Linked DNA regions of Homo sapiens. The protein of the gene in region 2 interacts with the protein of the main gene of each other region in a biochemical or structural test. Each region holds a gene or a part of one and is shown on either strand. Other genes may lie near its edges.

Evidence for each region. Proteins that work in one complex are often made in the same cells at the same time.
Region 1: the proteins of VDR (region 2) and POU1F1 form a complex in vitro, tested with the Homo sapiens proteins (one study listed by BioGRID).
Region 3: the proteins of VDR (region 2) and STAT1 form a complex in vitro, tested with the Homo sapiens proteins (one study listed by BioGRID).

What each region holds. Positions count from the first base shown.
Region 1 is NC_000003.12:87,265,263-87,273,584, reverse strand, and holds part of POU1F1 (pituitary-specific positive transcription factor 1), read left to right. Parts: intron 1-88; coding exon of another isoform or gene 89-166; coding exon 167-238; intron 239-8,322. UniProt on the Homo sapiens protein: Transcription factor involved in the specification of the lactotrope, somatotrope, and thyrotrope phenotypes in the developing anterior pituitary. Specifically binds to the consensus sequence 5'-TAAAT-3'. Activates growth hormone and prolactin genes.
Region 2 is NC_000012.12:47,844,677-47,854,320, forward strand, and holds part of VDR (vitamin D3 receptor), read right to left. Parts: intron 2,133-9,644; coding exon 1,981-2,132; intron 1,776-1,980; coding exon 1,659-1,775; intron 330-1,658; coding exon 70-329; coding exon of another isoform or gene 1-69.
Region 3 is NC_000002.12:191,002,850-191,011,171, forward strand, and holds part of STAT1 (signal transducer and activator of transcription 1-alpha/beta), read right to left. Parts: intron 7,601-8,322; exon of another isoform or gene 7,523-7,600; coding exon of another isoform or gene 7,518-7,522; intron 7,156-7,517; coding exon of another isoform or gene 7,155-7,155; coding exon 7,027-7,154; intron 6,295-7,026; coding exon of another isoform or gene 6,259-6,294; coding exon 6,114-6,258; intron 4,813-6,113; coding exon 4,714-4,812; intron 1-4,713. UniProt on the Homo sapiens protein: Signal transducer and transcription activator that mediates cellular responses to interferons (IFNs), cytokine KITLG/SCF and other cytokines and other growth factors.

The DNA.
Region 1 (8,322 bases), on a different chromosome or scaffold from region 2:
TATTGGCATGTAACTTTAAGAACCACATAAATGTGTATTTTTGAAATAAAACGAATGTGTCTTGAATCCTTATACATTTTCTTACCAGTCCCATCTATTTTGTCTTTGATCCAAACTCCTAAATGTTTGTGCACACATTTCTCGGTGACAACGTTGGGAAACACAGCAACAGGACTTCATTATTCTGTTCCTTCCTGTCATTATGGAAACCAGCCATCAACCTATGGAGTGATGGCAGGTAAGAAAAGTTGTCTTTTACATGTTATTGAATTTGGGGACACTTAGATGGATTTTCTGGGCCTGAAAGAATTGTGATCAGAGTGTGACATGAAATTTGATTTCTTAACTTTGAAAATTACTGTTAAAAATCACCACTTCTTGTTTCCTGCTCTGTGACACCCACAGAGACCATAGGGGTTATACCTAATTTCCCTACTTACGTATCTCTGAACTGCTGTGCTTCTTGAGTTTGCTTTGTATGGTTTTTATTGAAATTCACTATCGTCAAACTGTTAGTTGTAACATGATGCTATTGGTAGGCTTACCTTCACTAAAAATATAGTAGCTACTAGACACGTGTGGCTATTTAAATTTAAATGTAAACTAGGTAAAATAAAACAAGATTTCAAATTCAGTTTCTCAGTTGCACTTGCTACATTTCAAGTGCTCTATAACCACATGTGGCTAGCGACTCCCATATCAGACAGCACAGGTTTACAGAACACCCCCCCTCATCATTATATTTCTTCTGGACCTTTGGTCCATAAACATAAATAAGACATTGATTGAAGCTAAGAGTGATTGGTAGGGGCTTTAGTGATAGCTGTTTCAGGCTTTAGCAGCCCTTTCTGAATTGCTTCTGAGTGAGTCTTAAGTGAGATTGAAATCATTGAAGTTACATACTTTTCTCCTATAGGTAAGTGAAGTATGACTGTATCAATTATGGCTACCTGCTTATTGATCCTTCTATAAAGGCATTGAAGCACAGTTTTTGAGGAATGCGTAGATCTGGCTTATGAGATCTATTCATCAAAAATTCTTGTTTAATTTCATGGCATGGCCACATAAGATTTTAATTGTTTTTAAAAAGTACACAGTTTTATTATGCGCAGGATTTTCATTTGTTGGTTTATTTTTAAGATAGCTTTAGGAGATATACCTAACGCTAAATGACAAGTTAATGGGTGCAGCGCACCAGCATGGCGCATGTATACATATGTAACTAACCTGCACATTGTACACATGTACCCTAAAACTTAAAGTATAATAATAATAAAAGAAAAGAAAAGAAATTCTTTGATATTTTATCTTTATTACTACAGCAGGAAAAGAATTCTTATTGATGACAAACTGTGTGAGTAAATGTGTGTGTGCGTGTGCATGGTGTGTGTGTATGTGTGTGATACTGAGGGAAAAACTGTGGATAAAGGAATCACTTATTAGGGAAATCTTTTCTAATTGACTTGTGTTTTGTTATGATACAGATAAGCAGTAAAAAAAAAAAACCGCAGACAAATATTGATTTATTCCTATAATTTTCAAGTAAAATGGAGCAAATAGTTTAATTTTAATTAAATTGTTTAACCTTTGATATCTCAAAATTTGTCCATGTAAGACTAAATAGAACATTAAAACTTTAAAATAATAATCCAGAAAAATATGAGCTTCTCCTACATTCTATCAAGCAACATTCTGAATAAACCAGTATCCTAACATTTATGGTTAAATGAAGACTGGTGTTCTTAACAATGACCTGTAAATCCTGACGTCTTTTTTTAAAAATTAAGAATTAAAGCCATATTTTTTCTTCCTCTCTGAAAATTGATTATTTATGATCAACATGCTTAATTAGTATTCATGGTTAATGAGAATAGCCCTCCTCAATGATGAACTACTGTCATTATAAAATAGTAAAATAAATGCGTTTAGCTACTGGAGGTGCGGGTGGATTGCTTTCTGTGGCCTTTACAGCATTTTGATTATGAGACAGGAAATGACAAACACATGCCACTGTTTCCTGGAGGAAAGACCTTACAGTTCATTTAGAGGAACTCCCAGGAACCAAGGTACATTGTTAGTTTCTCTCTTAACCCAGCACAGAGGCAGTCCCTGCCAGTTGATTGAGGTTGGCACCAAGATTAAAACCAGTCACAGAGCAGGGGCCAATAATCTCTGGCCCAAATACCTTCAGATAATTTTTGCTACCAACTCCCACCCTGCCTAATCAGAGAGGGCCACCACTGGCCTCGGGAGTTTGCAGCTGGCCTCAGAATTCTAACACCCTTACTGCTTCCAGGACTGGAGCCAATATGCCAATGTTCACATTGAGAGTGTTGGCAGCTCATGTCTTTCTGATACAAGTTTCCTCCAGCATGAACTCAGCAAACCCTCTTCCACGAACCTCTTCCTCATTTCAATTAAAATGTAAAGACCCCTGGAAGAGCCTTTCAAAATGATTCAAAACCCTGTCTTAGTGACATCAAGAGCAGAAGACTTACACCAAGGTCTGGAGCTATCACTGTGGTCTTAAGATTAAATATATTCTGTGACTGAAAGAAAAACTCACCATCACAAGCACAAAGATATTTGAATATTTTTGAGAGGGATTGTTAAATCCCTCTCAAAAATTTTGTTAAAATGTGATATGCTTTAAATGTCAGAATGTCTATATTGGGACATAATTCAGTATTAGCATTTGCTTCATGAGAGATTAGATCTTAGAGAATCTGAACTCTCCTGACTTTATCCCCAGTAAAGCTGCATAAATTGAGTTACAAAATACAGCAATTCAGAAATAAGAGAGAAAAGGTAAATAAGAGACAAATGTATAAAGTACACAATAGAAACCTTATTATGTCATCTGAATTTTCTGAGAAGTCTTAAGTCATTAATCAAATCAGCCCCTTGCACACAATCCACAGAAGTGTCTTAACAACAACAACGACACGGTGTCACATACTCTATATAAAAGTGAAGCTACAGGAAGAACTATATTTCTAAAATATGTGAAATTACTTTATTTTCATATGGTTATTTCATTACTCATACTCTGATGCTTACATTTAGTTTGAGCATTTCATTAAATTAATAACTCACAGGAAAAGAAGAGCTATAACTAATATTTTGTCAGGTTGGTAGGTAGAATTTTAATGATCAGATGAATCCACTGTACGTAATAGTCCAGGTGCAGGCAAAATAAAGAGAATGACTAATTGGGAGTAATGAATTATCCATGCCATTAACTAATTACTAACATTGTTCAAGTGATTAACACCTCTGAGTTCCAATCTCTTCATATCTACGTTGTGGTGGGTACTACAACTCTACTGGGGTTGAGTAGTAGCAAATTTGTGTCAGCTCAAAATGATTTCTCTTTTGCCCTTCTCTTCACGTACTCTTGCAGCTAAATTCCTTCTGTCCTTTCACTCCTGAGAACTTAGAGAATTCAAATCAACACCTTACAGTACAAATAATAGAAAACCTAGAATTACAGATGCTGTTCAAAGTCTCTCCTAGATAAACACAAAACAAAACAAAGTATCAAAAAAAAAGTTCTCAAAACTCTGACTCTTGGGTTTCTGAGATTGTTTCTGTTCTCCAGTATCTGAAGCAGAGTACAATTCAGGAAACAAGCTCAATGGGGGTTCACCCTTTCTGCTGTCCTGTGGAAACAGCAAATCAACCTCACTGTAATAAATGTTAAACCCACCATCTTTACATGATGTAGTGGCCAAACCAAGAAGTAGTGTGAAAGTCCTTGCTTTAAAAGTTAATTTCAAGGGGAAAACAAAACAAAACAAAACAAACAAACTTGTTTAAGTCCCAAACTCTTGGGACTTAAACAAGATGATGAGCATCCAATTCTTTTTCATGAGAAGTGGATATTAAAAGAAAAGATTGTTATGGCTGAAAATATTCTTGCTGCCTGGGCTAATACAGAAGAAAACGGAAATCAGCCTGGCAACTGACAGGGAGAAATAGTCTAGTCTATTTTTGGAACCCATCTTTTCATTTTTTGAAATTTGAAATTTTTTTTTCTTAATTTACTTCTTTTGTTTAGTTCTTTGTTTTATTTGGCCCTAAATTGTTCTGGTTGTAACAACTCTAAGGAAACAAGTAATTCTGAAGATCTTTTGCTTCCACATCGTGAAAGGTCTTTTGGTAGCAGTAACATGATGTATTTTCACTTCCAGACTAGGGGTTGGCAACCCTTTTCTGTAAAGAACCAGACAGTAAATATCTCAACCTTTCTAGTTTTTGTTGCAACTATTCAACCTGTCATTGTAGTAGGAAAGCAGTCACAGCCTGTGTGTAAAGAAATAGGCATTTCAAATTAAACTTAATTTACAAACACAGGCAATAGGCCCCAGTTGTACACGGATAGGATTTACCAATGCACAAGAGTGAAAAGATCACAGTGGAAGTTTATAATTTCCTTTGAATTTTTATGCCTAAGCAACAGAGGGGAATATATGGAAATATTCAGATACATGTTCCTGTGCATGTTACAAGCACAGCAGGGTGGCGTATTTTACTATGTCCCTCTGCTTCCCCTGTTTGTTTTTTTAAGGCATCAAGCCAGTAACGTGAGATGATGTTGTCAGCTAACCACATGCTGCAAAGATCAATTTGCCCCATGCTATGGTACATTGAGTCAGCGCCTAGTAAGGCATCCCTATCTCTGACCCCCATTGCCTGCTTTAAAAGATTTACCTCTGTTCTTCTCTCTCCTCTGTCACACAGAAATGCATACATAGCAATTTAGAAAGGCTCTGGTGAATTAATCTTCAATGTGAAAATGTATTTGGAACTACAGTGTGCAAACACTTCTGAGCTATGTGTGTGTGTGCTGTCCAGGCCTCAAGATAATTTTTCTTTATCCATGTTTCAGAAAATGTTGATGAGACCTCTGTCACACATGACTCACAACATCTTTTATCTTATTCCTACTTTTTGCAGTAATCTGGGTTTTAAAAAGATTTGAAAAACATATTGCTATACATATCATCCCAATCACTCTCCACACTCCCCCAAATGCAGGCTCAGATGCTAGAAACAGAGGTTCGTTTGGCTGTTCTTTTAAATTGTTGTGATGAAATTCTGTGTGAAGTTAGTTCCAGGAAATCTGTGACCTTGCAGATAATTGTAGATACTTTCATGCAATGAAAAATGAAAGTGAACCAGGTGCAGTGGCTCACAACTGTAATCCCAGCACTTTAGGAGGCCGAGGCAGGCAGATCACCTGAGGTCAGGAGTCCGAGAATAGCCTGGCCAATGTGGTGAAACCCTGTCTCTAAATAAAAAATTATAAATAAAAAATAAATTAAAAAATATAAAAATTAGCCGGGTGTGGTGGCAGGCACCTGTAGTCCCAGCTACTAGGGAGGCTGAGGCAGGAGAATTGCTTGAAGCTAGGAGGCATAGGTTTCAGTGAGCCGAGAGCACTCCAGCCTAGGGAACAAGAGCGAGACGCTGTGTCAAAAAAAAAAAAAAAAAAAAAGGGAAAGGGAAAAAAATAAAAAATGTATCACACATCACATTTTCCTTCTTGTTCTGGATGCCAAACCTTGGAGCATGGTATTTTCTGTGTACTTTTCATGGATTCCATTCAAATTTGTTTTCTGCGTGTCCACTTTCCCAGAGTACTTACAATGTATAAACTACCTTTCAATTTTTGTGGCTGGGTTCTGTGGCTTATACCTATAATTCTAGCACTACAGGAAGCTGTGGCTGGAGGATTGCTTGAAGCCAGGAGTTTTGAGACCAGCCTGGGCAACATAGTGAGATCCCGTCTGTGCAAAAAATTTAAAAAAGTAGATGAGCATGGCGGTGCATGCCTGTAGATTCTACTTAGGATGCTGAGGTGGGAGGATGGCTTGAGGCCAGAAATTTGAGATTGCAATGAGCTAAGATTTTACCACTGCACTCCAGTCTAGGAGACAGAGTGTGACCCCATCTCTAAAAATAAAGAATAAATAAGCAAACAAACAAATAAACAATTTTACGGAAACAGGGATGACACACTTTATATATATTTTATTGTAATATTTTTGTGGAACAGTGTTTGTTTAATATAGCCAAAGGTGTTTAAATGCAGAGAAAACCTTTTAAAGAGAAGTTATTTAATTTGCCTGAGTATAGACTGCCTGGAGAATGAACCGGGCAATGATTTTGATGTGGCTTACTGCAATGCTTATTAGACTTTAGTTCTGGTTTAAACTGCAAAGTTAATTCGTTGGGCACTGGAGGCAAGTTATTTACTTTCTTTCTACTTAAATTTCCTCCATTGTAAATTATGGGGAAAAATATATATCTTTCCTGACTCATTTTTTGTATAAGGATAAAGATGATAACAAATGTGAAATTAACACGACACAAAGTGTTGCATAGAAGATTTGTAGCAGTACATAATTATGATCAGCAAGAGAAATTGAAAATAATAATAATAATTGATAACAAATTTAGACCTTTTAGTATGCGTAAGTAAAAAACACACAAATTTTTTATATAAAATAAACATAATTTGACATAGGTTAAATGAGTTATCTAAAGTGTCTTAAAATATGTTAAATGTACAAAATCTAACAGTAGCCTGGCTTTTCTTTGTACTCTTTCTCAGGGTATTTTATCATTAAATGTATTAAGTGATACCTGATGGACCTAAATAATCAAAGAAGTGAAGGTTTTATAAATATATGTGAGAATCAATTCTGAAAGCATAAGCACAAAACAAGTCTTCAGATAAATATGAGATTAAATAAATGATAACATAAATGTCATCAATTTTCTTTTACATCTATTAGTCCTTCTTTTAATTTAGCAGAAAATTAAAATTAATAAAAAGCTAAAAATAAACCCCACGGCAATAAATATTTTCAAGAAAAGCTATATAATAAAAGAAAAGTTGGTAAAATTGCTTTTAAAAATGTTCTCTTGTCTGATCAAGATGCCACACAATAAAGCATAAAATGGATAGTTAACTGACTTTTACAAAAGTAAACCTGGATAATTTTGGTTTGTAAAAGTAGCAGGAATTTTTTAAAGACAAAAATAATTTCTTTCACATCTTTTCCCAGCTTTAGAGCAGATAAATTTATGTTATGCTAATTTGTTTAATCTCTCATTTGTATGTTTACTTTGTTTTAGAAAAAATAATATACCCTATTAGATATAATTACATATTTATAATTACATATTTTTATATAAATTTATAATTATATATTTATAATTACACATTTATAATTATATATTTATAATTACATATTTTATATAAATAATACATTAAATTAAATTTATATAAAATTTAATACATTAAATTAAATTTATATAAAATATAAATTTTATATAAATAAATTAAATTAAATAAATAACTACATATTTATGATTACATATTTTTATATAAAAAATATAAACCAACAATTTGCTGAGTTACGGTATTCTTTGCTCATTATATATTGATATATTAATGTAAGATTTCTGTATTCTGGAAAATATATTATTACTCATGTCTTTGATTTGAGAATGTATGTGTGGAGAAATTATAGGTAGCATGAACTCTTGATGCATTTTTTTCCAGTAAGTTTCTAAGAATAATTATTGCATGTATTCCATAGTAATTTATTTTAAAATATTTATATTTATAAGAAAATGATTAATTACTCAATATTTTTATATAAAAATGTCTTGCTTATACAATCATCCTTCTATGTGGCACATTGGTTCCAGGACCCCCAAGGATACCAAAATCTTTCGATGCTCAAGTCCCTGGTATAAAATGGTGTAGTATTTGCATATAACCTAGGCACATCTTCTACCTTAAATCATCTCCAGATTACTTATAATATCTAAATCAATGTAAATGCTATGTAAATAATTGTTATACTGTATTGGGTTTTTTATTTGTATCATTTTTATTCTTGTGTTGTTATTTTTTACTTTATTTTTTAAGTGTATTTAATTCATGGTTGCATCAATCCATGAATGCAGAACCCATGGATATGGAAGGCACACTAGACATGTCATTTAATATAAATTGAAGTAGAATCTTTGTCGATAAAAATTGTAATGTATTGATAAAGAAAACAAGAAACAAAATGTGTTGGAATTTGGCTTATATACTGTCCTCTCACCTATACTTCCCAACTGAGATAGACTCTTCCAATGAAAAAGGAAATCTGGAAGCAATTGTGTAATAATTTCAGACCTTTTTACATTTTTTGTGATTTAACATATCCACTCAGTAGAGTCAATGCTTTACCATTTATCGGTAATCACTTATCATATATAAAGTTGCAAACTTTCTTGCTTCTTATATTTGCTTTT
Region 2 (9,644 bases):
CCAGCCCCGGGCCTGGCACGTGGCCCTGGAGGAGCAGCCCCACCCAGGCACCGCCACAGGCTGTCCTAGTCAGGAGATCTCATTGCCAAACACTTCGAGCACAAGGGGCGTTAGCTTCATGCTGCACTCAGGCTGGAAGGAGAGGCAGCGGTACTGCTTGGAGTGCTCCTCATTGAGGCTGCGCAGGTCGGCTAGCTTCTGGATCATCTTGGCATAGAGCAGGTGGCTGCCCGGGGGCGGGTGGCGGCAGCGGATGTACGTCTGCAGTGTGTTGGACAGGCGGTCCTGGATGGCCTCAATCAGCGCGGCGTCCTGCACCCCAGGACGATCTGTGGGCACGGGGATAGAGAAGAAGGCACAGGAGCTCTCAGCTGGGCCCCTCACTGCTCAATCCCACCACCCCCCACCCACACAGACACTCAACGGCAGCACCCCCTAGGCCACCCCTCTATGACTGCTGACCGGTGATACCACTGCCTGGCCCCAAAGCCCTCCAGTGACTTCTCCGTGCATTTAGGATCCAGACCTAGGTCCTTCCATGGGCGCACCTGGCCCTGTCCCTGCCTGGCCTTGCTCCCTGTCCATGCTCTGTCCATCCCTCAGCGTCCCGATGCGCCATGCTCTCTGGCCACCAGCCTTCACATCTGTGCTCCCTCTGCTTGGAACTCTGCTCTGCTATCTTTGCCAGACTCTTACTGATCCTTTGGATAACAGCTTAAAAGGTCTTCCTCCAAAAGGCCATTCCTGGCAACACTCTACCTCTGTAGCCCAGACCACGTCAGCTTCCCTCCTTCTATTCTACCCTTCTGTAGCATCACTTACTTTATTTTTAAAACTCTTGCCTTGTTAGGAATTAATAATTAAATAACATTTGTTTAATGTTTCCTCCTAAGCTTCATGGGAGAGGAGCCTGTGTCCCATTTGCTGCTGAACCCCAGTACCTAGCATAGTGCCTGGTACCTAATAGGTGCTCAATAAATTGTTGCTAAGTGGATGAATGAATGAGAGAAGGCTGGCTGGGCAGGGGTAGAGGAGCCCATCTCCATTCCTTGAGCCTCCAGTCCAGGAAAGCATCCCTGGGCACAGGCCACTAGCACAGGCTGAGGCAGGGCCGCCCCTCTTTGGACCTCATCACCGACATCATGTCCCCAAGGTCACAATAACTTCCTCTTCGGCCTTTTCTCCCTCTTCTCACCTCTAACCAGCGGAAGAGGTCAAGGGTCACTGCACATTGCCTCCAAAATCAATCAGGTAAACTATATAGGCAGAACCATCTCTCAGGCTCCAAAGTTTTGTACCCTGCCCGCAAGAAACCTCAAATAACAGGAATGTTGAGCCCAGTTCACGCAAGAGCAGAGCCTGAGTATTGGGAATGCGCAGGCCTGTCTGTGGCCCCAGGAACCCTGCTTATCTAGTTCCTCAGAATCCCCCCTACGAATCGCCTGCACACTCTGCAAGGCAGAGCTAAGGGCAGTGAGGGGCACCTCAGCGTCCACACACCACAGGGGCTCTGCAAACCAGCAAAGTAGGTATTTCCTTATCTGTGTCTCCTTTTGCTACGTCTCCCTTCAGGTTGCCCAGCTGGCCCTCAGCAGGTCTTTGTCCTTCATACTCCCCGCTCCCCAGGTCCCTGAGCTCCTCCCTGCCTGGCCCCATACCTGGGGAGACGATGCAGATGGCCATGAGCAGGACATGCTCCTCCTCATGCAAGTTCAGCTTCTTCAGTCCCACCTGGAACTTGATGAGGGGCTCAATCAGCTCCAGGCTGTGTCCGGCTGTGAGAGACAATGGCCAGGTACTGCGGGCAGAGCTGAGGAGCCGCCCACCCACCTCCAACCCCATGGGTCTGACCCTCGCCCTTCTCTCCCTGTTGGTGCCTAACTCCCTCCCATGTATCTGATTGGAGCCAAACCCCAGGACGGGTGGAGCCAGAATCTGGGAGCTGAAAAAGACTCCCCAGGAGGTGGAGTCTAGGCATACCTTTGGTCACGTCACTGACGCGGTACTTGTAGTCTTGGTTGCCACAGGTCCAGGACATGTCGTCCATGGTGAAGGACTCATTGGAGCGCAACATGATGACCTCAATGGCACTTGACTTCAGCAGTACGATCTGGTCCTCAGAGGTGAGGTCTCTGCAGGGGAGGGAGGGAAGGAGGTCAGGTTACCAGTAAACGCCTTCAAGCCACACAAATCAGTTTAGTGCTTTGACAGGTATACACCTGCTGGGCACCAACATGCACCCTGGGTCTTTCATCGAGGAGCTTGCAGGCTGGCTGGAAGGGACAAGAGTGTTCCTTGAGAGAGAACAGTTCAACACTGTGATCATGTGCCAAGGCCAGAAGTGAAGTAGCTCAGTTACTAAGACAAGAAAAACTCAGAGACCAAGCAGCCAGAGCTATGGGGCACAGGAAACGGAGCCCAGGGAAGTTCCCAGCATTGAGGCATGAATATGGTGGTCTGCAAAAGGTAGGGCCATGGTATCTTCAACAACACCCAAGTTTTCTCCTCCTCTCCCTCCTACTGTCCTCCAGTCCTTCTCAGTAGTAAATTCAGCCAACTCTGTCTCTAGGATGTCTCTCAAGCCCGTGATCTTATTCCCACTCCTACCAGGAGTGCCCTGGTTCAGAGCTCCAGCGTCTTTTCCAATAGCCTCTTACAGGAATCCCAGACTTGTGTCTCTCCAGTCTCTCATTCATCTTTCTTACCACTGCTGCAGGTCAATGTCCTCTTGCACTCAGAAATCTTCACTGACTCTCAAACACCCTAGGATCAGGCCCACACTCCCTAACTTGGCTCCAACCTCTCATTCCAACTCCCTTTCCCATGGTAAACTCCACCAACCTTCCATTCTAGCAGCATCATGCCACTCCACATTCAGATGCTGTGTGTTCTCACTGTGCCTTTTTTTTTTCTTGTGACAGGATCTCACTCTGTTGCTGAGGCTGGAGTGCAGTGTTATGATCATAGCATGCTACAGCCTCAAACTCCTGGGCTCAAGTGAGTCTCCCACCTCAGCCTTCCGAATAGCTAAGACTACAAGCATGCGCCACCATGCTCAGCTAATTTCTTTTATTAGTATTTTTAGAGACAGTGTCCTGTTCTGTCACACAAGCTGGAGTGCAACAGAATGATTATGGCTTACTGCAGCCTCAAACTCCTGGGCTCAAGCAGTCCTCCTGCCTCAGCCTCCTAAGTAGCTGGGACTACAGGTGCACACCATCACGCCTAGCTAATTTTTTTTGAGACGGAGTCTCACTTTGTCGCCCAGGCTGGAGTGCAGTGGCGCGATCTCGGCTCACTGCAAGCTTCGCCTCCCAGGTTCACGCCATTCTCCTGCCTCAGCCTCCCGAGTAGCTGGGACTACAGGTGCCCGCCACCATGGCCAGCTAATTTTTTTTTGTATTTTTAGTAGAGACGAGGTTTCACAGTGTTAGCCAGGATGGTCTCGATCTCCTGACCTTGTGATCTGCCTGCCTAGGCTTCCCAAAGTGCTGGGATTACAGGTGTACGCCTAGCTAATTTTTAAATTTTTTTTGTAGGGATGGTGTCTCACTATGTGGCCCAGGCTGGTCTCAAATTCCTGGCCTCAAGTGATCCTCTCATCTTGGCCTCTCAAAGAACCAGGGTTACAGGTGTGAGCCACTGCACCCAGCCATCACCACGCCTTTCAGCATACTACAGCTCCAGCCAGGAATACCCTTCTAATTCTCCATTTTGTTTTTCTGGTCCTGAATCCACTGTGTTTTCCACTGGAGCCCCGCACCTTCTGACTCTTTAGCACAGTTAGGGCCATGTCATTGTGATGCCTTGAACATTGCTGGTGCTCTTATTTTGCCCGTCTCCTCCAGTTCTGCTCTTTACATGCTTGTTTTCTACTCCTTTTTTTTTTTTTTTTTTTTTTTTTTTTTGAGACAGAGTCTTGCTCTGTTGCCCAGGCTGGAGTGCAGTGGTGAGATCTTGGCTCACTGCAACCTCCACCTCCCAGGTTCAAGCAATTCTCCTACCTCAGCCTCCTGAGTAGCTGGGATTAGAGGCACCTGCCACCACACTCAGCTAATTTTTGTATTTTTAGTAGAGACGGGGTTTCGCCATGTTGGCCAGGCTGGTCTCGAACTCCTGACCTCAGATAATCTGCCTGCCTCAGCCTCCCAAGGAGCTGGGATTACGGCGTGAGCCACTGCACCCGGCCACTTGTTTTCTACTCTTGTTTGTAAGTTACTTGGGGGCCAGCACCTCCTCTTAATCACCTTACTGTTGCCCACACACTGACCATTGAGCCGTCAGCACAAGATGATCAATAGAGATGCGTTGATGATTTGAGAGGCCAATGACTAGTTCCACTATTCTGAGTCAGGAATGGGCTTGTCTGAACAATGGCGAGGAAAAGGCAGGGCTCACAAATCAGCTTGCTTCTGGCTTTTACTCCCTTTCTCTTCCTGACTGTCTACTTCCTCCTGGATATCCTGCAGATAGGCTGTCACCCCGTCAATGGCTGCATGTTTATATATAAAGATGGGAAGCTGATATTAACTGATGAGAGTGTTGTATCAATGGGTGATAGATGGTGGGAAATGAGAAGGCTTGCATGATCAGGATGGCCAGCAAAGGATCTGTATTGAAAAAAAATCACAACGTGCTAGAGTTGGAGGGCCCCTCTTAGGAACTCTTAGAGATGGCTCCTACATAACCTCTGCAGGACTCTCCTAGGGTCAGGGAGCTCAGGGCCTCTGGACACAGCCATGGGGTTGTTAGCGCCGAGATTAATGACCTCTTCTATTGAGCTACAATCCACGTGATAGTACACTCATTTGTGGTTTACAGTTTTGTGCTCAATAAACCCAGAACCAGACTTCTCCACTAGCCATGGGACTTCCTTTGAACCATAACTAATGGAGTTTTTTAAAAAGGAAAACTGCCGTGTCCTCCTTCAGATAGTCTAATGACACAATGTCTAACATCTCACCATCCTTGTCACTTTTCTCTAGATGCTCAATCCACATTTAAAACACAAAAATGAACACCATCCCCATTTTTGTTTTGACTCATTATACAAGTAAAACATACTCATTATCAAATCTTTGGAAAATACATAAAAATGTAAAAACAAATTAAATTTGCTCATAACCACACTTCACATTTTGGCGTATTTTCTTCCTATCTTTTTTTCTTATTTATTTATTTTAATTTTTTTTTTGAGACAGTCTTGCTCTGTCACCCAGGCTGGAGTGCAGTGGTGCAATCTCGGCTCACTGAAACCTCTGCCTCCCGGGTTCAGGCAATTCTCCTGTCTCAGCCTGCGGAGAAGCTGGGACTACAGGCATGTGCCACCACACCTGGCTAATTTTTCTATTTTTAGTAGATATGGGGTTTCACCATGTTGGCCAGGCTGCTCTTGAATCCTGACCTCAAGTGAGTCCTGCCCACCTTGGCCTCCCAAAGTTCTGGGATTATAGGTGTGAGCCACCGTGCCTGGCACCTTCCTGTCTTTTTTCTATGCAAATATATATATACCCACAAATATACATAGAGAGAGGGAGTATACATTTAACATACTGGAGCTTATACTAATTCTTTATCCTACTTCCTATATCACTCAAAATTATTTAGCCCAGTTCTTAGAGGGTTGCATGATGTTACATCATAACAGTATACTCTAAGTTATTGAGCCAGTCTTCCATTTATCTATTTTTGAACATTTTGATTGCTTCCAATTTTTGCTATCATAGGTAATTCTGGGAGGAATAACTTTATACATAGCCTTTTGTTCAGTGCCCCACTCAAACAGATGGCCAGCAGTGAACACATCTTCCATGGATGCAGGCCAGAGAGGTTTTAGTGGGATCACTGCTTTTGTGATCCAGACATCCTGCTGCTAGGAACACAAACCCAAAACGACCCCAAATGACTGCCCACAGCCTGGAAATACAGGGCCTTTCTAAATACAGCTCACAGCCAGGACCAGGGATGGTGGCGTGGTGGGAGTAGAGGTGGAGTTACAGGGGAAGCCATAAGAGAGCTTGTTCCACGATGATAGGCACCAGCACAGCTCCGTTCCCCCTCCCTCACCTGTGTGACATTTACACCCTCCTCTGTCTTCACGCCTGCAGCCGCTTCTGGGCACCCGAGATGTGACTGGAATTGTGTTGCTGTTTCGTCTTTCCCACCCCCACAGGCAGAGCCCGGCCCCTCCCCTCCCCTCCCGCATTCCCACGGTACCTCCAGCAGGCTTGTAGCAGGGCTCTTATCTCCTTGCAGCAATTGTTTACATGTCTATCTCTTTCATCAGACACCAAATCCCTGGATGCCAGGGACTGTCTTCTCAACAACTTTTGTCCCTCACAGTTTATGTAAGAAAGCTATTTGTTGGATGGATGAAGAAATGAATGTGGAGAAAGGGCACAGCACGAAGGAAGCATGATAACCCCCAGGGCTCTTCCCTAGGTATGGAAATGGCAATGAAGGTGAAGGCATTTAGCAGAAGAGGGCAGGGCTGCAGCTTATGTGGCCTGGTCTCTTGTGTACTTTACTTGTCAGTGAAGCCTGGGGGTCCCAAGTCCTCAGATCTAAGGCTGCTCTTGGCCATTTAGATGCTGCTGCTGATGCCACCTCCTCCATGCATTTCATTTGCAGTGCCAGCAGGGAGGGAGATTTGTGGGGTGAGACTGAGAGGCTAAGGGAGGAGAGATGGGAGGAGAGAGCAGGCCAAGGCCACACTGTAGCACAGTTCACACCAAGAACAGCCCATCCAGCCCTGCCCCACGTTGGTCTCATGCCCCCACTGGAGACTCATCCTGTGCCCCCACACACCCACACAGAAGTCTCATCCTGCCTTCCCCACACCCTCCGCCCCTGCCTGCAGGCAGCAAGATCAAAGCCACCAGGGATGCAGCCACTGTTCTTCTATGTCTTGGAACAATAGAACCCCTAAGTGTGGAAAGCAGCAGAACCAGAGAGCTACTGGGCTGGCCCACCCTGGGCCCAGTTGGAGCCTAGGTTTGGGCTCCAGTCCAGGCTCAGCATCACCTCTGTCCAGTCACAGAGAGCGTCCATACCAGTGTCCCTGCAAGCTCTCTTAGCAAGGCCTGCTCCATTTTCATTGGCATACCTTCTGCTCTGGGACTTCTCAAGTCATACTGAAGACAGAGAAGCCAACCCTAGCATGTTCAGGATCAGTTTAACCCATTTTGCATCAATGGCTGGGCAGCTCCTGTACCTGCCATATGTACCTCACTTTAGCCATGAGTTGCAAGGACAGACTAGGGGACAGAGGAGAACATGATGAAAGGAAGAGGGCAGACTTCAACTTAACCTCGGGAAGAGAAACTGAGAGTAGTGCTATTTGTGTCAGGGTACATGTGGGAGGGCAATGGATAGGGGCCTTGAGCATGGGAGAAATTGGAGGCTGGGGTTCCTTAGTGAAGGGGGCAGCATTGGAGTAATCCGATTTAATGAGTAACTTTCTTTTTAGGGCAGCTTTCCCGTGTATGCAATCTCAGCCACCATTGGAATCACTGAACCTGGAATCACTGTATCTGGAAAGGGCCGTGGGGGCCCTCTGTCCTACTCCCCACTAGAGCAGGGAAGGATGAAGCCTGTGTAGACAAGGACTGCTGCCTGACATGAGGATGGAAGCCGAGTGCTTCTGTGTTTTTTCCCTAGCTGTTTACACAAAACAAGACTTTGGAATATGTGGAGTTTGCAAACAGTAACGTGAAGCGTGGAGGAGGGAGTTGGAACTTGTGCTCTACGGAATGTGTTGTCAGTTCCAAAGAAAGCCTCTGAGGGTAAACCCTGGGCTCAGAGCAATGCCGGGCTCACACAAGATCTGTCGCTTGCTCCTGCTTGCCTGCCTGCCAGAGGGGCCCTCGCTCCTATCACTACAACCAAAATGTGCAATGCAGTAGGAGTGTCTCAGCACTGTCTGCCAGTTTTCTCTTCTTCACCATTTTCACATTAATTCCAGGGGAAGAGCATCGAAAAATTTCTGTTATTTGGGTTGGTGAGAGGCATAAAATAACACAGAGCCAGTTTTCTCAGGGCAGAAACAAACTGGAAAGTTCTGGGTTTAGCTCTGTGAATGACCATCATCTCACTGGCAAGGCATTAATTTCGGCAATAACTCATGGCTTTTCTACACAGCTAAGAGGGCCATACACCAATATATGGCACCTCATAATCTGTTTCCATCCAGAGCCGGCAATGTTAACTCATTTTCCAGCTCCCCATATTCCAGCACTGAATCTGAGCATTAGTATCTAGGAAGCATTTTGCCCCTTCTGCCGTAAATACAGCTATTGCTGCTACTTGAAAGACAATAACATTGCTTGAGATTGATTTACTTCTCTTTCTCAACCATATTGTTTATGTATTTTATGGCAATATACCAAATGAACTTTGGGGAAGAATGAAGATACAAATATACATAAATATAGCCATTTCCCAACACATCTATTAAATGTGTCAATACTCTATTGTTTTAAGAATATTGGCCGGCAGTGGCTCATGCCTGTAATCCCAGCACTTTGGGAGGCCGAGACAGGCGGATCACGAGGTCAGGAGATCAAGACCATCCTGGCTAACACGGTGAAACCCTGTCTCTACTAAAAATACAAAAAAATTAGCCGGGCGTAGTGGCGGGCGCCTGTCATCCCAGCTACTCGGGAGACTGAGGCAGGAGAGTGGCGTGAACCCGGGAGGCGGAGCTTGCAGTGAGCCGAGATCATGCCACTGCACTCCAGCCTAGGCGACAGAGCGAGACTCTGCCTCAATTAAAAAAAAAAAAAAAAAGAATATTGGCCGGGCGTGGTGGTTCATGCCTGTAATCCCAGCACTTTGGGAAGCTGAGGCTGGCAGATCACCTGAGGTCAGTAGTTCAAGACCAGCCTGGCCAAGATGGTGAAACCCCAACTCTACTACTAAAAATACAAAACTAGCCAGGCGTGGTGGTGCGTGCCTGTAATTTCTGCTACTCAGGAGGCTGAGGCAGGAGAATTGCTTGAACCCAGGAGGCAGAGGTTGCAGTAAGTTGAGATCGCGTCATTGTACTCCGGCCTGGGCAACAAGAGGGAAACTCTGTCTCAAAAAAAATACAAAAAATTAGCCAGGCATGGTGGCACGCTCCTGTAGTTCCAGCTACTTGGGAGGCTGAAGCAGGAGAATTGCTTGAACCTGGAAGGCGGAGGTTGCAGTGAGCTGAGATCGCGCCATTGCACTCCAGCCTAGGTGAAAAGAGCGAAACCGTCTCAAAAAAGAAAAAAAAAATTAACACTGCATGAGTATTTAAATATAAGTATTATATACAGTACTAGTGTTAAAACAATGAAACATAGGAATAAATGAATGAAATTTATATGAATGAATTGATAAAGGAGGATCCCTTCTCCAGTAGAACTCCTTATACTTATATATTTTGGCAAAAATGTATCAGTATGGTTAGGAAATGGTCTTTATTTTTTTCTTTTTTGAGACAGGGTCTTGCTCTGTTGCCCAGGCTGGAGTGCAGTGGTGAAATCATGGATCACTGTAGCCTTGACCTCCTGGGCTCAAGTGATTCTCCTGCCTCAGCCTCCCTAGTAGGTGGGACTACAGGCATGTGCAACCACACCTGGCTAATTTATAATTTTTTTTTTTTGTAGAGAAGAGGT
Region 3 (8,322 bases), on a different chromosome or scaffold from region 2:
TGAGTATTGAATTCTGTTAGATCTTTTCAGCTTCTGTGGAAGGAAGTAAATGCTTTTTTCTCCTTGTAGCTATTAATTTAGTGAATTGCATTAATAGGTTGCCCAGTCATGGACTACCCTTGTAACCTATAATAAATCATATTTGGTCATGTCCTTTCTTAATGTAGTATTTAATTCTGATCCCTAATATCTTATTGAGGACTTTTATATTGATACTCATAAGTAAAATTGGTCCATAATTTTTTGTTTTATCTTTATCAGGCATACGTCATCAAAGTTATTCTCTCTTCATAGGAAGTTTTCCTTCATGTTACATATTCTCCAACAGCAGAAGTTCAAAGCATGTGAATTGTATCAGCTGTAAAGTGTGTATTAGAAATACATGAATGTTACTGGTATCCTCTGTAAGTCCAAGGTGCCACATATCACTCAGTGACAAAAGGGGTTTCTCTGGGCGGTTGGAATAAGTTGTCACTTTGAGGAGTTCCATACAGCTTTCTGCCTGTGCAGGGAAATCTTTGCTGTTGTCTAATTCTGACATGGTTTGGATCTGTGTCCCCACCCAAATCTCATGAATTGTAATCCCCATTGTTGGAGGTGGGGCCTGGTGGAAGGTGACTGGATCACGGGGACAGTTTCTCATGAATAGTTTAGCACCATCCTCTTGGTACTATCCTTGTGATCACGAGTTCTCACAAGATCTGGTTAAGTGTGGAGCACCTCTCCCCTGCTTCCTCCTGCTCTGGCCATGTGATATGTGTGCTTCCCCTTCACCTGCTGCTATGACTGTAAGTTTCCTGAGGCCTCCCCAGAAACTGAGCAGATGCCAGCACCATGCTTCCTGTAACAGCCTGCAGAACCATAAGTCAATTAAACCTCTTTTCTTATAAATTACCCAGTCTCAGGTATTTCTTTATAGCCATGCAAGAACAGACTAATACAACTTCTAAGCCAGCAGGATGTGGGCACGGTGTCCTGTGGGCTTTGTAACAGCTGGGACACTACACCTAGAGAGAGGGACCAGGCCACTGGAGAATTCTGACTTCCCAGGCCTCCTCCCAAATGACCAAGGCTCGGTTTAGAGAACAGGGATATAAACAATGGCTGTAAAACAGCAGCTACATCCCCAGCTTCTACATCCCCTTTCTACTGACTTGCTGGGAGATGCTTGGTGGAAAAACCTGGTGACTGTGGCAGGGCCTAAGAAATCTCCTGCTTCCAACTTGGGCAGTAGTCCCTCCAAGTCACTCAAACCCTTGGTGCTCTCTTACCCCTTCCACTCATCCCTCCCTGCTTCCCTCCACCCTGCCCCCATCTGCTAAGCAGATGCTTGGCTGCTCCTGTACACTTTAGTACTGATACCACTTTCACAGTGAGTCCTTAACTTTTTAACTTTCTAAGAAACCAGGAGTACTGAAACCACGGGAATTTCAAACACTGAAGTTGGAAGGGACTTCGGCTGTCATTGACTCTTACTTTCTCGTTTCACTACTGTACCTCTAGAGACCTTGTTTGGATGGGAACTTGGTTACTCCAGACCCCAGAGCAAAGAAAAGTCTTCTGCTCAGGAAGGGGGTCCTTTCCAATGGAGTGAGCAGTTGTCCAAGTAAGGGAATAGGCACTCCATGGGTGTGAGAAGTTCCAGCCAGAAAGCCCTCATATCCCATCCCACAGATTAGAAAACTGAAAAGTGACTTCTCCAGTGAACTAGTTTTAGAGTTGGACAATACTGGGTTTAAATTCCAAACCTACTTCTCATTAGCTCTGTGGCTCTGAGTGAAGTACCTGACCTCTAAACCTTAGTTTTCTCATCTTTAAAATGGGGATAAGAATACCTAACTTCAGTGATAGTTTCGAAAGTATTTACTCAAATGAAATAATGTTTATAAAGTGCTTAGCACAGGGCCTGAAACATGATAAGCACTCAGCATATGGTAACCATTAGTCCTTAAGAACACAAAGATGGAACAGCAAAGGAAGCTTAGAATCCACCTCATGTCTTTCCCTCCCACCTGAAAGAAATTCTCCCCATCCCTTCAGACCCTATGGACCTAAATTTTTGTCTAGACATGCAACTAGCTTTTTCACCACAAAGAAAAAAAGAAAGAAAAAAACTTAGTGTGCTGTAAGACAGCACACGAAACATTTATAGTCTACTACAGTGTGTATAGCATAATATTCTCTTAAATGTATTTTCTAAAAGCTCTTATATTAAAAAACAATGGGAACAATAATTTCCCATCTCGGCATGTCTATAGAATTTTGTGGTCTCTAAATGATCTGAACTAACTCGGAATTTTGCATGTTTTTAACTTGTTGAATCTGTTGAATCCCCATGTACCTATCACAGTTTCAACAATTAGCATTCATGGATGGCCTTGTTTCATCCCTATTCTCCTTACTCTTCTAGTCCCCAAATGGGATTATTTGAAGCAAATACCAGACATCACACCATTCCATACACATATACTTTAGCATGAATAGAATATACACAGTCATGTACCACATAACAATGGTTCAGTCAACGATGGACCGCGTATATGACAGTGGCCCCATAAGATTAGAATGGAGCTTTATGGGGGTACCACCTTTTATCTTTTACACACTATCTGTACTGTACCTTTTCTATGTTTAGATACACAAATAACATTGTGTTACAATTGCCCATAGCGTTCAGTACAACTTCATATTGTACAGGTTTGTAGCCTAGGAGCAATAGGCTTTACCATATAGTGTAGGTGTATGGTAGGTTATACCACCTGGGTTTGTGTAAGTGCACTCTATAATGTTTGCACAAAAACGCGATCACCTAGTGGTGCATTTCTCAGAATGTATCTGTGTCATTAAGTGATGCATGTCTGTATTAATAAAATAAAGTTACTTCAACAAGGGGGGAAATGGTGAAGAAATGTTTCTGACCTACCTAGCCAATAGTTGGCTGGATAACTTTGGAAAGGAGGCACCTATTGTGCCTTTTCCCTTTCCCTGACATCCCCAGACACCCAGAAACTTCCCTCACACCCCAAGAAGGCTTTGCAAAGGTGTTCACGGACTCAGGTGTCCTCTGAGAGGCTCAAAACAATCCCCAGATTACCTACATTTTTAATGGGGAGGGAGCTCAAAAGCTGGTAAACCTTCAAGATCCAAAGCCAGGGGATGAGGTTCATGTGGGAGAGCAGGGGTCACCTACTCTGCTGCCAATGCCATCTCTGGGCCAAGGGGCCAAATGTGAGGATGACATGCTTGCAGCTGGGGGAAACAGGTTGTCCTTCTGCCCATCTTTGCTCCTGGCTGTCCTTTCAAGTCTATTAGAAATACAGAGGAGGCCCACGCATACTACTTTTAGGATGGAAGCCCCATATAATCAAAACTGCCGGCTGAAAATCTCCCAGGTATATGCCAGGTTAGAGACAGGCACACCTCTTTCAGAGGAGACAACCTGGCCAGCTTCTCCTCCAGCGTTGATATACACCTTTGTTCCCTAGGCTGGGTACCAGATGAGCTAGCCAGCTTGAGTTTAGAATAAGCAATATGTATCTTTACATGCTCAGTTCAGCAAGATGCTATCAGTGTGACAAGAAGATGGGAACTATACGCCTAGGGAAGTGACAGGATTACAAGGACTGGGACAAATGCTCAGGCAGTGTGTGGAGAATGGCATCCTCCACCACACCTAAACTCCCTCCCTCTCCACTGTCACACAGTTCACTTCGGTAGTTATTTGTTGGTGAAATGCACACAGGATGCATACTGTGTCCTCTGGCATCCATATAGCAATGGGCTCCTCCAGAACAATCCATAACATGGTGGCTTCACACTGCCTGCCTGTTGGCTTGTTGTCACCACCCCAGTGCTCAAGAAAGGAATACTAAATGCCATAGCAAATTCAAAACTCTGCTGAACCCTGACAACTAGGAAGGTTTGTATTAGGATTAATAAAACAATGATCAAAAATCTTGATACTAGTACAACTCTGACTCATTTACTGTTTGATGCCTTGAATATTTAATAGGTATCTTGATGTTGCTCAAAACAAAGCCCTTGATTTTCCCATCAGCCTCCTTTTCTCTCCACAAACCTATTGAGTCCTACAAAACTCCTGCCCCTGCCCCCTCCTTGCCTTCCCAGCTCCGTGTACAGCATTACCATTTTTCAAGGGGTTCTAGTAGCTGCTGTAGAGCCATCCTTGACTTTCTGCTCTCACTCCTGCATCTAATCCTTCAACATAAGGATCCTTCTATATTGGTATCACATCCAAAGCATAACCTGAATCTGTCCACCTCTTCCTACCTCCACTGATTCTACTGAGCGCAAGCTTCCACTGCCTCTACCTTGGACAGCTGCAAGAACCCTCTATCTGCCTGCTTCCATTCCTGTGCCAGCAACTCAGAGGCCTTTCCTGACCCTGATCTAAAGGAACAACCCCACTCCCAGCCACTCCATGAATTCAGCATGTTATCTTCTCAGCACTTTATGCTACCCAGAAGTATCTTGTTTATATGTTCTCTCTCCTCGTTAGAACTTAATTCCATTAGATTAGGATCTTTCTTAAAGCCTGGTTCTATAAAATCTCTAAATCTGATTCTCCCACTTCTTGGGGCTATAAAATTAGAGAGATATTCATCATTGCTTTGACATGGGCCCTAATAGTATTTGATGAATGAATACATTTTTATTTTATTACAGTTTATGTGTTCAATGAGAAAAAAGTACCTGATTAAATCTCTGGGCGTTTTCCAGAATTTTCCTTTCTTCCTTCAGACAGCTGTAAATGATCATAGACATCTGGATTGGGTCTTCCTGAAAATTATCCTAGATTTGAGTGGTTAGAACAAAAATAAATTAAAATGCAGAATGTTTACTTTATTGTGTATTGTAAGTTGATATGAATTTGTTTATATTCTCCGGGAAACCTCATCTCTCATCTATTAAATTCTATATAAGCTATGTTTGTTAAAATCAAAATATTTCTTTCACGAATTATGACAAAAATTGCTTTAACTTTCTAAGTGCAGGTACCTAACGTACTTTTTGATTTAAAAACAAGTATTTTCACATATGGTTCACATAATATTTTTACTTTAATATCTTTCCATATTTCTTAAGGCCAATTATCTTTGGTTAGGATCCCGAGACAATGCAAATGATATAAAAACTATACATGACATTCCTCAATGAATGCATCTGTTGGTCTAAGCTTTGAACTAGACCAAAGATATTCATCTAGGGTTTTCTGTTGCCATTGTCAAAGCTAGTTTGCAAAACACTACCAATAGCAATAATGGCTCTTTATACAGGTACATTCATGCAAGGTCTGTATGAGAACAAATTTCTGTAAAGTTAATTTGATTTCCCCACTCGTAAATAAAATCATAAATACATTCACAAAGGAAAAAAAACAACTTCCAATTACCTAAGCTGAAAAGTTCAGTTGTATTGTATGAAAGAAGAAAATGATAGCTTTCACCTCCATTAAAACAGAAAAGTTCTGTTATTACACAACATAAATATGATAGCCACCCCAAGGGCATGCTGGGAGTACATCTGAAGAACCCCTAAAACTCTATAGCATGTTCTCTCATGTCTGGATCTTTCTTTGACTTTCTCTTCCAGGAGAGGCCAACTCCACCAGAAGCAAGGCAAGGTGGAGTCTAGTTCCTGAAGTCACCTGACTTCCTTAGGTGAAAGTCAAACCTTTCCTGTTTTATTCCTCATTTGCATAGCAAGGACCTGAACCTAACCACTAATGTTCCCTGGAGCTTTAATGTATTACTATAGATCATTGCTCTTAAAATGTAGCCCCTTTTCTTTGGTTTAAATATTGACAATTTTTAGTAAAACAAAATTATAGCATCACATTTTTCTCAGGATTACTGATACCTAAGAGGTGATACATTTAACCCTAAAAATTCCTTCTGTGTTTATAAAATAAATTGGTATCTTATTTTACTTATGCTATATTTACTGATGCTGTAGAAAACATAAATGGAGTTAGTCTCTATTACTTCTCTAAATACCAATAAGTGTGTGCTCAATTGTATTTGCTGAATGAAGAAAACTGCCTTCCATAAACATGAGAACATTTCAACTAAAATACAAAAACCAGGTCATACCTGAAGATTACGCTTGCTTTTCCTTATGTTATGCTGTAGCAAGAAGTTATTCTCCAAAGAAAAGCGACTATATTGATCATCCAGCTGTGACAGGAGGTCATGAAAACGGATGGTGGCAAATGAAACATCATTGGCAGCGTGCTCCCTAGGAGATTTAACATTTACACATTTCATTCTAGAACTAAATGTCTATGTAAAACAGACAAAACAAATGTTGGTTTCCTTATTGAAATTATTAAAAATAATTTAAGTATTTTCTTAGGTTTATTTTCTTCTTTTGAAACTGACATTGCTTTTAGCAGCAGTTTATGTGGTATTTCTCTTATGTGCAATTAGCACAAAAAATTCTAAACTCTAAGAGATTGTGCATGACAGTGTTCATGGTGACTATCTCTGAAGGGGGAAAAGTCAACAGGGGACCCTTCACTTTCTATGTCAAATACTTTCAGGACGTTTTTAAATTAGCAAATAATAAATTTTAAAGTAGAACACCTATCAGTTAAAAAAAATCCCCTTAATTTTACTACCTTCTTCATATTTCTAATCAATGTTTAACCATTAATTTGGCTTTATTTCTTTTAAATTACTTCTTTCTATAGTCTGGATCCTAAGTTGGAAAATAATCGGTGTCAGTATTCCGTAACTTGTCCAAAGCATTTAGGAATATCTATCATAAATTAAATTTGGCAAAACTGTATAAAAGTGCTTAATGACTAATATACTTAACTTTGTTGAGACACTTTTTGGCTCAACTTTGTTGAGTCATTTTTTAAATCAACAAACTTTTCTACAACAAATAATTCCAGTGGCCATTGATGGAATTCATCTTCCAGTAAACATGGCCCCAAGTCACTTAATCAACCAGTACTTTTAAGGTGTAAACTTCTTCTTCTGTCTAGTGAATTTTCCTTACCAGTCTTGCTTTTCTAACCACTGTGCCAGGTACTGTCTGATTTCCATGGGAAAACTGTCATCATAAAGCTGGTGAACCTGCTCCAGGAATTTTGAGTCAAGCTGCTGAAGTTCGTACCACTGAGACATCCTATAGGGAAAAAGAATATACATTCTTTCTATGTATATGGAAACCATAGCTCCAAAGAAAGCCTTCCTAGCATCAGGTTGTACTCTTAAATATCTTGCTTAATCCAAAACATAGTTTGTCCCAGGAATATTTTATTTAAATGGCATTTATAGTCTAAAGCCTGTTTTTAATTGAGTTTGGGGATGAACTTTTTTTCTCCTCCACGAAACACATCTTCATGTCTTTGCTTATTGTCAACATATCAGGGCAGCCTTCTCTGGCCTCTTTTATTTAAACTGCAACCACCTCCCACCCTGGAAACATGCTCTCTCTTTTCCCTGGTTTATTTTTCTTCATAGTACTTACACCACCATCTGACCTACCACATATTTTATTTTCATTATTGTCTGTTTTCACCACTTGAAGGGATGGATGTTGGTGGAGGATTCTGTGCACTGGTGTATCCCTAGAACAATGTCAACCACATAGTAGGTATCCAATAAATATGCCTTTAAAATGAGTTTGTGATTTTATCAAATAAATACATGAAAAACATTATTTTAATTAGACTTGCTTTAAGACAAATCACAAGACTCTCCCAAAATTGCTCTCCTACAAATCACAGTACATTTGTAATTTAACTCAAATATTTTCAAACTTCTGTTTTATATTTATGATTCATATGGTAAAATTCATTATTTTTCTTATACACATTTAAAAAGATATATTTTCTTCTTTGCCTACTACAAACAATAAATCTGGCATAAAGAAGTAATGATTTTTAAAGATTAAAACATCATTAAATGTAATTTAAAAGGATAAAGTAACACTTAGCTTTTTGGATAACTGTTAAGTCCATTTTTACATAGTGATCCTAAAGATTCAAAATCACAACAAAAACTTGATATAAGCAAGTCCTAAAATTCATTAGGAAAACGGAGAGTCTCCCATGACCATCATGTAACTTAGGATTTATATCAGCACACAGGTGGCAATATGCAGAGCAGACACAAGTGAATCTTGTCCTGCCAGACCTCTGGGGAAGGAGTCTGGATTTTCAAGTAGGGCATGGAAGAGTGTGTATGCATACTTGTAGCCGAGCACATGTATGCAGGCATGAGGTCACGCCTACTCCACAAATGTCCTTCCAAAGGAGTGTGAGGAAATGTCTGGCCTATAAAGCTAGTT